3 linked regions of the Homo sapiens genome follow. The protein of the gene in region 1 interacts with the protein of each later gene in a pairwise test. Each region holds a gene or a part of one and is shown on either strand. Other genes may lie near its edges.

Region 1 (3,651 bases):
AAAAGTCATGTCAATCTTACTTAAAAAGATTGTAATTCAATTTACCCAAAGGTGTTACTTCAGTTCAAGAGTAGAACTCCCTTTCTTTTACTAAGGAGTTCTTTTTGCTCCTTTTTGTCAGTCCTTCTTGTGTTTATGTCCTCAAAATAAAACTTACTATTCAGAGAACTAGATATAGCTCACCTACTGAGGAAACCTCAAAACTACTGAATTCCCAATAACCTACTTAAGAAATGCACAAGCATTTCCTGAAAGATGTAATTTACACAAAAGCAAATGTCCCTTTTTACAGTATCAGCCTAAGGCTTAGCAGTTCTTATACCAAATTTAAATATCCCATAAGCTTTATATTATGGAATATAAAACATAGCAATCATATTAACACAAAATTGGAGACTATCTTAAATGATGCCCCTAACTTTTGGCTTAGCCAAATGATTTCCTTTGGCCAATGAAATGTCGGTAGAAGTGACATGCCACTTCTAAAAAGAGGTCAGGAGTTCAAGACCAGCCTGGCCAAGATGGTGAAACCGCATCTTTACTTAAAAAAAAAAAAAAAAAAATTAGCCAGGCTTGGTGGCAGGCGCCTGTAATCCCAGCTACTTGGGAGGCTAAGGCAGAGAACTGCTTGAACCCGGAGGCAGACGTTGCAGTGAGCCAAGATCACGCCACTGCACTCCAGCCTGGGCAACAGAGCAAGACTCCATCTCAAAAAAAAAAAAAAAATTAGTGTGTGTGATGCAACTTGGAAACACGGTGTCTATGGTGTACATGTAAAAAGGCTAACAGGTAAGACACAGACTTTAAAAAGGAATAGAAAACATCAGTCAAAATTTCTGCACTTCCACATGGATTGAATTCTCCTCCTTAATACTAAACTAAATCTGGCTCTTCATTCAAGTTTATGAAATATTTTTCTTCTATATTCTTGGACTTTTATCAGGACTTGACACAATTATCATCTCTACTATAATAATGCAATGACAAAATAGATAGACACAGCATCTCTGTTTAATTTTTTCTTAGAATTCAAATACTCCTAATCTGAATTTAAGAAATTGAGAGGGAACAGGGAAATAAAGGAAAATTGATGCACAGGAACACACTGTTATAAAATTTTTTACAAAACAGGTTTATAAACTAAGTTTATATCTTAGTCAAGAACAAAAAAAAGAAATGTATTCAACCAATCTCAAACACACCCTTCCCCCAGAAAAGTATATCAACAATAAAAGAACCAATGAACAAAGTACCTTCTTTGCACAAAGAAATATTCTAGGTCCTTTAGTAGATACAAAAGATAAAACAAGATCCTTGCCGTTATGGAATTGAGCAGAAAAGATGTAAATAAATAAAAACATATAAGGTAAAAATATTAAGAACTAAATAGCAACATAAAAAGGAAGGAAAATTAAAAATAGTAACAGCATGTGTCTTTAGGCCTCAACATGAGCTATTCTTGGGAAAATCTGACAAAGTGGGCCTGAAATATATACTCGCTGTCCAAATAATACAATGTCAAAATTCATCCCTGCCAGAAGAAGCAGATTGGATTAGCAGACAGTGCCTATGATCTTAAACAAGGAACATCCAAAGCGTCAGTGTTCCTTCCATAAAGATAAGCTACACATCCACAATGAAGGAGAAAAGTGTATCAAGTGCTCTGCTTAGGGCTTGTTTAGAAAACCTGGTTGCTTGCTTACTCTTTTGTTATATGTGTCTCCCTGAACAAACTGATGAAAATTCGTCTCTCTGTATTGCCTCGTTAAGATGTCAGAAAGCTGAAATTAGAAGATCATTGTGGGCCCACAGTTTTATCCCAGGAAATATGCTAATAAGTACTGGGTCCTACATATCCCCCTGCACTTAGCACCCATTTAGTTATTCCCCAGAAAGGCTCAGTTGTGGACAAATTCGTTTCTGTGTCCACACCAACTGTCAAGCACATTAGATCAGTCCAAACCATGCAGATTACTAAAACCTCCCACCTTTAGGATTCTTCAATACAGTATCTTCCATCTGACCCCTCCACAAACAAAAACTCATGTAACTGCCCCCTCAATTAAATTTTTTTAAAACACTTCCAGCTGAAAAGTTTTGATGAAAGAGTCAAGAAACCCATACTTTAGATTCCTTGACTCCAAACTTCCAGTTCTCAAAATTCAGTTATTTCTTACTTTTATCAATACACTTACAGGGGCTCTCTTTTGATCTCGCACCAGTAGACAAACCTCCTGTCTCAAAAAATTACAGCCTACAATTTACTGAAGTCAAGAATTTCCTTTTATACAATAAATGCTTGTCCCCACCCTTTTCTGTGAGAAACAGGGTTTTTTTTGCGCCATCACCCAGATTGGAGTGCAGTGGTATAATCATAGTTCTCTGCAGGCTCGAACTCCTGGTCTCAAGCGATCCTCCCACCTCAGCCTCCTGAGTCACTGGAGTTATAGCCACAAGCCAGCATGCCTACCCCCTAGCCCTTCGTTATCAATTCTGTTAAGCTGGGAATTCTGTGAAACTGGTTCCCTTTTAAAAGTAATTTAGACAGACAGCCTTAGTCGGGGTAAAAACCTTCTGGCAAAAGTAAAAATTAATAATAAAATTCAACCTTGACAAATTATTTGATAGAAAGACAAAGATAGCTTGTAAAGATTGTATTTCAGTTATCAGCTACAGATTAAAAAGAAAAACACACCAACTTACCAACAACTAACGCTCCTCTTTCTGCAAAAGCCAGGGCATAGGCTCGGCCCAATCCTAATCAAAAACAAAATAATCAGAAAGTTGAAGAAATGTCAGCATAATTTTTTTGGTCCGCTCAACTCAATCCCCATTTAAAGAAATTGGTGAACAATTAATTACATTTTAATGATACTCTCAACCTATCCTATCACTGACATTCTCAACCTATCCACTCTCTTCTGCTTGCAGAGGCTGGAAAGCTTAAAACTGTATTTTTCCACCTATTCTACTACCACTTCCTACCATTCTACTTAGCTGCTAGGATGCTGTGAATTGGGTTCCACCATCTGATGCATCTGCATAAAACTTAGAAGGTGTAAGTGAGACAGAGACCACCTTACTGGGAGTTCTGGCTGTTGTTGTTAAGAAGCTAGTTTTCTTGAAAGTTCCTAGGTATTCAGAAACTGACTATAGCAGCGACTTCTTCATTCAGCTCCCTAATCCCTGGATGGCAGCTTCCATACTTCAGGTCCCTAGTGCCAGTGCTACTTGGGCTGTGGCACAGCTCCAATGACAGCCTCAGAGGTATTGCCTCCTCTAATGGATCAATTTCCTATTGTTTCAGGAGTTATTCTAAGAAGACCTGCCTAAAACCTAATTGCCTGTATTGAATCCTTTGCTGCTTAAAATATCTAGTGGTTTCTGTATCCCACAGTGAACCCTGACTACACAGTCATCAAATACAGAAAATATTTAATTCTGACTCAAAGCTACAAGGTGTAAATTTATATATCCAAAAAGAAATTATATATATATATATAGAGAGAGAGAGAGAGAGAGAGAGAGAAAGTTTTGCTTTTTTTCTTTTTTTTTGAGATCCAGTCTCACTCTGTCGCCCAGGCTGGAGTGCAGTGGCATGATCTCGGCTCACTGCAACCTCCACCTCCCAGGTTCAGGTGATTGTCCTGC
Region 2 (3,651 bases), on another chromosome or scaffold:
CATGCCTCCCTACAGCTGCCTTGGGGACTGGTTTCAGAATAAGAACTAGGTGTAACTCCAGCAAGGCCATAAGCAGGGAAACAGCTGTTTGTCTAGGTTTCTTCAGTTATGCAGGATAAACTTCCTGCTCTTTAAGGATCCAACAAGATGCATGTGGATGAAAAAATAAAACTTCACAGCTTCCACTGCCCAGGCACCCAGTAGTTAGATTTCATTTACCAAACACCCACAACGTGCTGGGGCTCTAAGGATGGGTGCCCAGCCACGGTCCCAGCCATCAGGAAGTAAAAACCATGGGATTTGGAGTCAAGTAGGCCTGTGTTCGAGTCTCTGCTCTGCCCCTTTTTGGTCGTGTGTCCTTGAGCAAGGTCTTCTGCACTGGGTCTGTCTCCTGCTTGTAAACCGGGGTCATAAGAGTATCTGCCTCAGCAGGGTGTGGTGGCTCACGTCTTTAATCCCAGCACTTTGGGAGGTCGAGGCGGGTGGATCACTTGAGGTCAGGAGTTTGAGACCAGCCTGGCCAACATGGCGAAACCCCATCTCTACTAAATATACAAAAATCAGCCACGTATGTTGGCGTGTGCCTGTAATCCCAGCTACTCAGGAGGCTGCGGCACGAGGATCATTTGAACCTGGGAGGATGCAATGAGCCAAGATTGTGCCACTGCACTCCAGCCTGGGCGACAGAGCAAGATGACTCTGTCTCAAAAAAAAAAAAAAAAAAAAAATCTGCTTCTTTGCCCTGAGACGAAACAAGGTGAGTTTTCTGTTCAATGCCTGGCACGAGATATGTGCTGTTAGTATTTTTATGGGTACGTTAGCATCATCCCCACTTTACAAAAGGGGAAACAGAGGCTCAGAGAAGAAGTGACTTGCCCACGATCACTGAGCTAGTAGGTACCAAGCTGGCACTGGAAGGCGGGTCTGCCTGACATGAAGCTCCTGTCTACCCTGCCTCTGAGAGCACCCCCTGGCATTCCTCACTTCCGTGTGAAGCTCTGTTCCGGGGCACCTGGATTGCCTGTATACCAGGAGTTGCCAATCACTGAGGCATCTCTGCGGAGGCCCACCTAGCTCTCCCGCATGGGGATGGCCGGTCAGGCAGGGTTGGAGTGGCCCTCCCCAACAGCCTGCCTCATACCTCGCTCTGCGCCAAGCTCACCATTTTTGACAAATGAGCAGACAGGCATGATGGCCTGGTGGCAGCCCCGGGTGCCTCTCACCAGCCTGATGGGCTGGATGTGAGAGAAGACTTCTGGGGGCCGCTCTCTGCGCCTGAGCACCAGGTGTCACGTTGCCGAGGCAGGTTCCAGACACCTGTCACATTCTGATCCAAAATCTGTCAAGGATCAGATGACAGGTTGTGACACAGGAGAACAGTTCGCTGGTTTGAGTGCAAAGCTGTCCAGGAGCTGAGCTGCACATTTCAGCGGCTGCCACAGCCAAAAATACACACAATGTATAATCAACGTGCTGTTCTGTGGCATTCTCCAGGGACTCGACAGGGTGTATTTTAGGCAGTATTCTATCATTATTGATTTCCTACTCGGGGGGACTGTGTTCCCTCCTTTCTATGTGGAAGGAATTGAGAGCTAGGAAGACAAAGACTGAGGGAATGAGGGCCGAAACACAGGAATTCGATGGAGGCGCTGCCCTGGCACATAGTAGGTGCTCATGACAGATCTGTTGAATAAAGGGACAGACCAGTCCGTCGGCTGGACCCCTGGCTCGGCCACTCACTAGCTGGATAACCTTGGGGGAAGTCTCTCTTCAGGCCTCAGTTTTTACATCTGTAAAATAGGGATAAGACACCTACTTCACAGGGAGGTGGGTGTGAGGATCAAGTGAAAAGAATCATTTGTAAAAGGCTTGCTTTAGTGGCAGCTTCCACTCAGCACAGGGGCTACAGACTCGAATGCCCACGGGGGACCGGGAGACACCAGGCAATGACTACAGAGTGCGGGGCGCGGGGAGGGACTGTGGTGACATGGAGACCGCACGCCCCTCTCCTGTCCCTTCACTGACGGCTGCTGCACAGCCACGGCAGCTAGGGGCCACCCGATCCTCTCATTCTGCAAGGGCAGCCAGATGGCTAACAGCCCATATTCACCAGGCCAGGTGGACTGTGTCCAGGGGGAGCCTGGGCTCTTTGGTTCCCTAAGCTCATAGCACACCAGACATTGTGCTTGCGTGTCACCCATGAGACTCCAAGCATTTTTTGTGTGTGTGTGAGACAAGGTCTCATTCTGTCGCCCAGGCTACAAACTTGACCTCCTGGGCTCAAGTGATCCTCCTGCCTCAGCCTCTCGAGTAGCTGGGACTACCGATATGTACCGTCATGTCTGGCTAACTTTTGTATTTTTTGTAGAGACAGAGTTTCACCACATTGCCCAGCCTGGTCTCGAACTCCTGGACTCAAGCAATCCACCTGCCTTGGCCTCCCAAAGTGCTAATACTACAGGTGAGCCACTGCGCCCGTCTAATCTGAGCATTCTTAAGACACTCTAGCGAGGCCACACGTCCAGCAGAAGTGGAGCTGGGATTCACACACAGGCCTGATCACACCCAAAGTACCAGGTCACAACCTCTACACTAGAATTATGCAAATGGCAGTGGATGGGGTTGCAATGATGAAAAAACAATGTTAGGATCTGTCTGACCCAAAGCAGGCAGTTGACAAGTAGTTGTTGAATGCACCCATGAAGTTAGCAATAGCAGGAGAGTGACCAAGAAGTCACCCCTGCACCGACAGAGCACTCTGCATCAGCCACATCCCCATCTACCTACGTGGGCCAGAGCTCCTTAGAAGTGACCCAAACCTGTTTCCATTGCACTTAGCACGAGCCAGGCCCTGGCCTCCCTTGCACTCTCCCAATTACTCGGAATCACCCAGGAAGAGGCCTGAAAATAAGATACGCTTATATGGCACGCACAGACCTGGGCCCAGCTGAGAGCATAGGCCAGAGGCAGGTCCTGACCTCTATGTGCTAGCTTCCGGGGGATTCTGAGCACAGCCAGATTGCAGAGCCACTGCCTTGGACAGTGGTGTGGACTCAGTAACCCCGGTTCCTGCAGACAGGCTCTTACTTCCAGCACGAGGTACTGCTCCGGGGCTGGGGCTTCCCCCATCTCTCCCAGCACGCGCTCACACTCCAGGGAGATGGCATCTATTGAGGTCAGGAGGGGGGCCACGATCTCTGGGAACTGGAGAAAAAAAGAAGGAACGGCTGGTGAGGCCTGGGGGCAGGCAGATGCAGGACAGCTGCCCCAGCAGTGGGGTGGAGGGAGGAGGTGTTCACACAGCCCGTGCCCATCCTCTGGGGAAACCACCTCTCTTCTGAGCCTGTTTTTTTGCCTTCCCAGCTGCAAAGTCAGTGTGTCTAACGAGCCCGACCACTGTCATTTTCCTGGCCAGGCTACGGGCACGGACGGTACCTTCTTTTCTGCCAAAACCACCTCCCTAAGGGCCCCCACCACCCACCACACCCCCTATAACCCATCAGCCAGAGGGAGACCTCGAAAATCCAGATGTAATTGTGTCCTGGCCTTCCTGAAACCTGCCCAAGAAGGGAACAAGAGTCACCTTGAGCAGCCTGTTTCTGACGCCAGCCACAAGGGCCCTGGTATTGCGAGGGACTTTGGTGTTGGTCA
Region 3 (3,651 bases), about 50 Mb from region 1:
TTTTGGATAAAAGCCATTTAAACTTAGGTGAGATGCTCTCTCATTGTAGGTTTTTTCTTTTTTTTTTTTTTTTTTTTTTTTGAGACGGAGTCTTGCTCTGTCACCCAGGCTGGAGTGCAGTGGCGCAATCTCGGTTTACTGCAACCTCCGCCTCCTGGGTTCAAGCAATTCTCCTGCCTCAGCCTCCTGAGTAGCTGGGATTACAGGTGCACACTGCATCACCACACCCGGCTAATTTTTGTATTTTTAGTAGAGACGTGGTTTCACCTTGTTGGCCAGGCTGGTCTCGAACTCCTGACCACGTGATCCGCCTGCCTCAGCCTCCCAAAGTGCTGGGATTACAGACATGAGCCAACGGGCCCGGCCCTCATTGTAGTTTTCATTTGCATTTTTCTGATGCTCAGTGATGTTGGCACCTTTTCTTATGCTGTCTGCCATTTGTATGTCTTCTTTTGAGAAATACCTACTCAGATCTTTCGCCCATTTTTAAATTGGATTATTAGATTTTTTTCATATAGAGTTGTTTGAGCTTCTTATATATTCTGGATATTAATCTCTTATCAGATGGATAGTTTGCAAATATTTTCTCTCATTCTGTGGGTTTTCTCTTCACTGTGTTGTTTCCTTTGCTCTGCAGAAGCATCTTAACTTGATGTGATCCCATTTGTCCATTTTTGCATTGGTTGCCTGTGCTTGTGGGGTATTACTCTAGAACTCTACCCAGTCCAATGTTCTGGAGAGGTTTTCCACTGTTTTCTTTTAGTAGTTTCATAGTTTGAAGTCTTCAACTTAAGTCTTTAATCCATTTTGATTTGATTTTTGTATATGATGAGAGATATGGGTCTAGTTTCATTCTTCTGCATATGGATATCCAATTTTCCCAGCACCACTTATTTATTTTGTTTGCAACAAAGAAAGAGTTTAATTGTCACAGGGCCAACCAAGTGAGGAAGACAGTAGATAATTCTCAAATCTGCCTCCCTGAGAATTCGGGGGCTAGGGTTTTTCAAGGATAGTTTGGTAGGCAGTGGGCTAAGGAATGGGGAATGCTGATTGGTTGGGTCTTGGATAAAATTGTAGAGAGTTGAAACTGTCTTCTTGCCCTGACTCAGTTCCTAAGTAGTGGTCACAGAACCAGTTGAGTCAGTTTCTTCATATGGGCTCCTGGTCCAAGTGGCACCAGTTGGTCCATCAAAATGCAAGGTCTGAAAGATACCCCAACCACCAGTTTTACGTTTTACAATAGTGATGTTATCTATAGGAGCAATTGTGGAGGTTGCAAAATTCTTGTTACTTTTGGCTACATAACTCCTAAACAATAATTCTAACCTCGTGTAATTTTACAAAGATGCTTTTAGTCTCTGAGCAAGGAGTGGGTTAATTTTGGGAAAGGACTGTTAATCATCTTTGTTTTAAAGCTAAACTTTAAACTGAATTTCTCCCATAGTTAGCATTGCCAACACTCAGGAATGAGCAAAGAGCTTGTGAGATTAAAAGCAAAGATAGGGCCAGGCGCAGTGGCTCATGTCTGTAATCCCAGCACTTTGGGAGGCGGAGGCAGGCGGATCACCTGAGGTTGGGAGTTTGAGACCAGCCTGACCAACATGGGGAAACCCTGTCTCTACTAAAAATACAAAATTATCCGGGCGTGGTGGTGCATGCCTGTAATTCCAGCTACTCTGCAGGCTGAGGCAGGAGAATTGCTTGAACCCAGGAGGTGGAGGTTGCAGTAAGCTGAGATTGCACCTTTGCACTCCAGCCTGGGCAACAAGAGCAAAAACTGTGTCTCAAAAAAAAAGCAAAGATGGAGTCAGCTATATCACGTTTTACTCACTGTTGTAATTTTTGCAAAGGTGGTTTCAAAAATATGCCTTTTTGGCATGTTGATTGTTGTGAGCTGGTTATCCTGAGAAACTGCAGATACAGGAGTAGTTCTGAAAAGTTGCCCTTTTTTAAGGGAAGTGTACGTTTGTAAAGGAGTATCTCTTTGACAGGGTGTCTCCCTCTCTGCACCAGGAAGAGAAGAAAGACTAGAAAGACTAAATCTCTAGAGACTGTCAATGCAGAAGGCATCAACTTAAGTCTGTACAGCAAACCTAACCTCTGCTTAAGGCACAGCACCATTTATTGAAGAAACTGTCTTTTCCTCATTGTATGTTATTGGCACCATTGTTGAAAATGAGTTTGCTGTAGATGTATGGATTTTTTTCTGGGTTCTCTATTCTGTTCCATTGGTCTGTGTGTCTGTTTTTATGCCAATATCATGCTGTTTTGGTTATTATAGCTTTGTTGTATGAAGTCGGGTAATGTGATTCCTCCCTTTTGTTCTTTTTTCTTAGGATAGCTTTGGCTATTCTGGGTCTTTGTGGTTCTACACAAATTTTAGGATTGTTTTTCCTATTTCCATGACGAATGTCATTGGTATATTGATAGAGATTACATTGAATCTATAGATTGCTTTAGGTTGTATGGACATTTTAACAATATTGATTCTTCCAATCCATGAATATGAATTATCTTTCCATTTTTTTGGTGTGTTGTCTTCAATTTCTTTCACCAATGATAGTTGTTTTTTTTTTTTTTTTTTTTTTTTGAGATGGAGTCTCGCACTGTTGCCTGGGCTGGAGTTCAATGGTGCAATCTCAGCTCACTGCAACCTGTGCCTCCCGGGTTTGCGCCATTCTCCTGCCTCAGCTTCCTGAGTACCTGGGATTACAGGCGCATACCACCACAGCTGGCTAATTTTTTGTATTTTTAGTAGAGACGGGGTTTCACTATGTTGGCCAGACTAGTCTTGAACTCCTGACCTCGTGATCCGCCTGCCTTGGCCTCCCAAAATGCGGGGATTACAGGCGTGAGCCACCATACCCGTTCAGTAGTTTTTATTTTAGAGATCTTTCACTTAATTTGGTTAATTCCTAGATATTTAATTTTATTTGTAGCTGTTGTGAATGGGATTACTTTCTTGATTTCTTTTTCAGATTGTTCACTGTGGGCATATAGCAGGGCTACTGATTTTTGTATGTTGATTTTTGTATCCTGCAACTTTTGTGAATTATCAGTTCTAGTCGTTTTTTGGTGGAGTCTTTAGGTTTTCCCAAATATAAGATCATATTGTCACCAGGTGTGGTGGCTCATGCCTGTAATACCAGCACTTTAGGAGGCCGAGGTGGGCGGATCACCTGACCAACATGGAGAAACCTCGTCTCTACTAAAAGTACAAAAAAAATTAGCCAGGCATGATGGCGCATGCCTGTAATCCCAGCTACTTGGGAGGCTGAGGAGGGAGAATTGCTTGAACCTGGGCGGTGGAGGTTGTGGTGAGCCAAGATCACACCATTGCACTCCAGCCTGGGCAACAAGAGCAAAACTCCGTCTCAAAAAAAAAAAAAAAAAAAAAGATCATATCGTCTACAAACAAGAAGAATTTCACTTCTTTGCTTGCTCTTGCTAGGACTTCCAGTACTATATTGAATAACAGTGGTGAAAGTGGGCATTCTTGGTGTGTTCAAGCTCTTAAAGGAAATCAGTTTTTCCCCATTCTGTATACTGACCATGGGTCTGTAGTATATGGCTTTTATTATGTTGAGATATGTTCTTCTATACCCAGTTTTTTAAGAGTTTTTATCATGAAGGGATGTTAGATTTTAT

What was found.
Region 2: the proteins of HSD17B4 (region 1) and MVK come close enough for resonance energy transfer, tested with the Homo sapiens proteins (one large-scale study listed by BioGRID).
Region 3: the proteins of HSD17B4 (region 1) and CDK7 interact in a two-hybrid assay, tested with the Homo sapiens proteins (one large-scale study listed by BioGRID and IntAct).

Annotation. Positions count from the first base shown.
Region 1 is NC_000005.10:119,455,421-119,459,071, reverse strand, and holds part of HSD17B4 (peroxisomal multifunctional enzyme type 2), read right to left. Parts: intron 2,758-3,651; coding exon 2,704-2,757; intron 1-2,703. UniProt on the Homo sapiens protein: Bifunctional enzyme acting on the peroxisomal fatty acid beta-oxidation pathway.
Region 2 is NC_000012.12:109,590,794-109,594,444, reverse strand, and holds part of MVK (mevalonate kinase), read right to left. Parts: coding exon 3,584-3,651; intron 3,205-3,583; coding exon 3,088-3,204; intron 1-3,087. UniProt on the Homo sapiens protein: Catalyzes the phosphorylation of mevalonate to mevalonate 5-phosphate, a key step in isoprenoid and cholesterol biosynthesis.
Region 3 is NC_000005.10:69,241,258-69,244,908, forward strand, and holds part of CDK7 (cyclin-dependent kinase 7), read left to right. Parts: intron 1-3,651. UniProt on the Homo sapiens protein: Serine/threonine kinase involved in cell cycle control and in RNA polymerase II-mediated RNA transcription. Cyclin-dependent kinases (CDKs) are activated by the binding to a cyclin and mediate the progression through the cell cycle.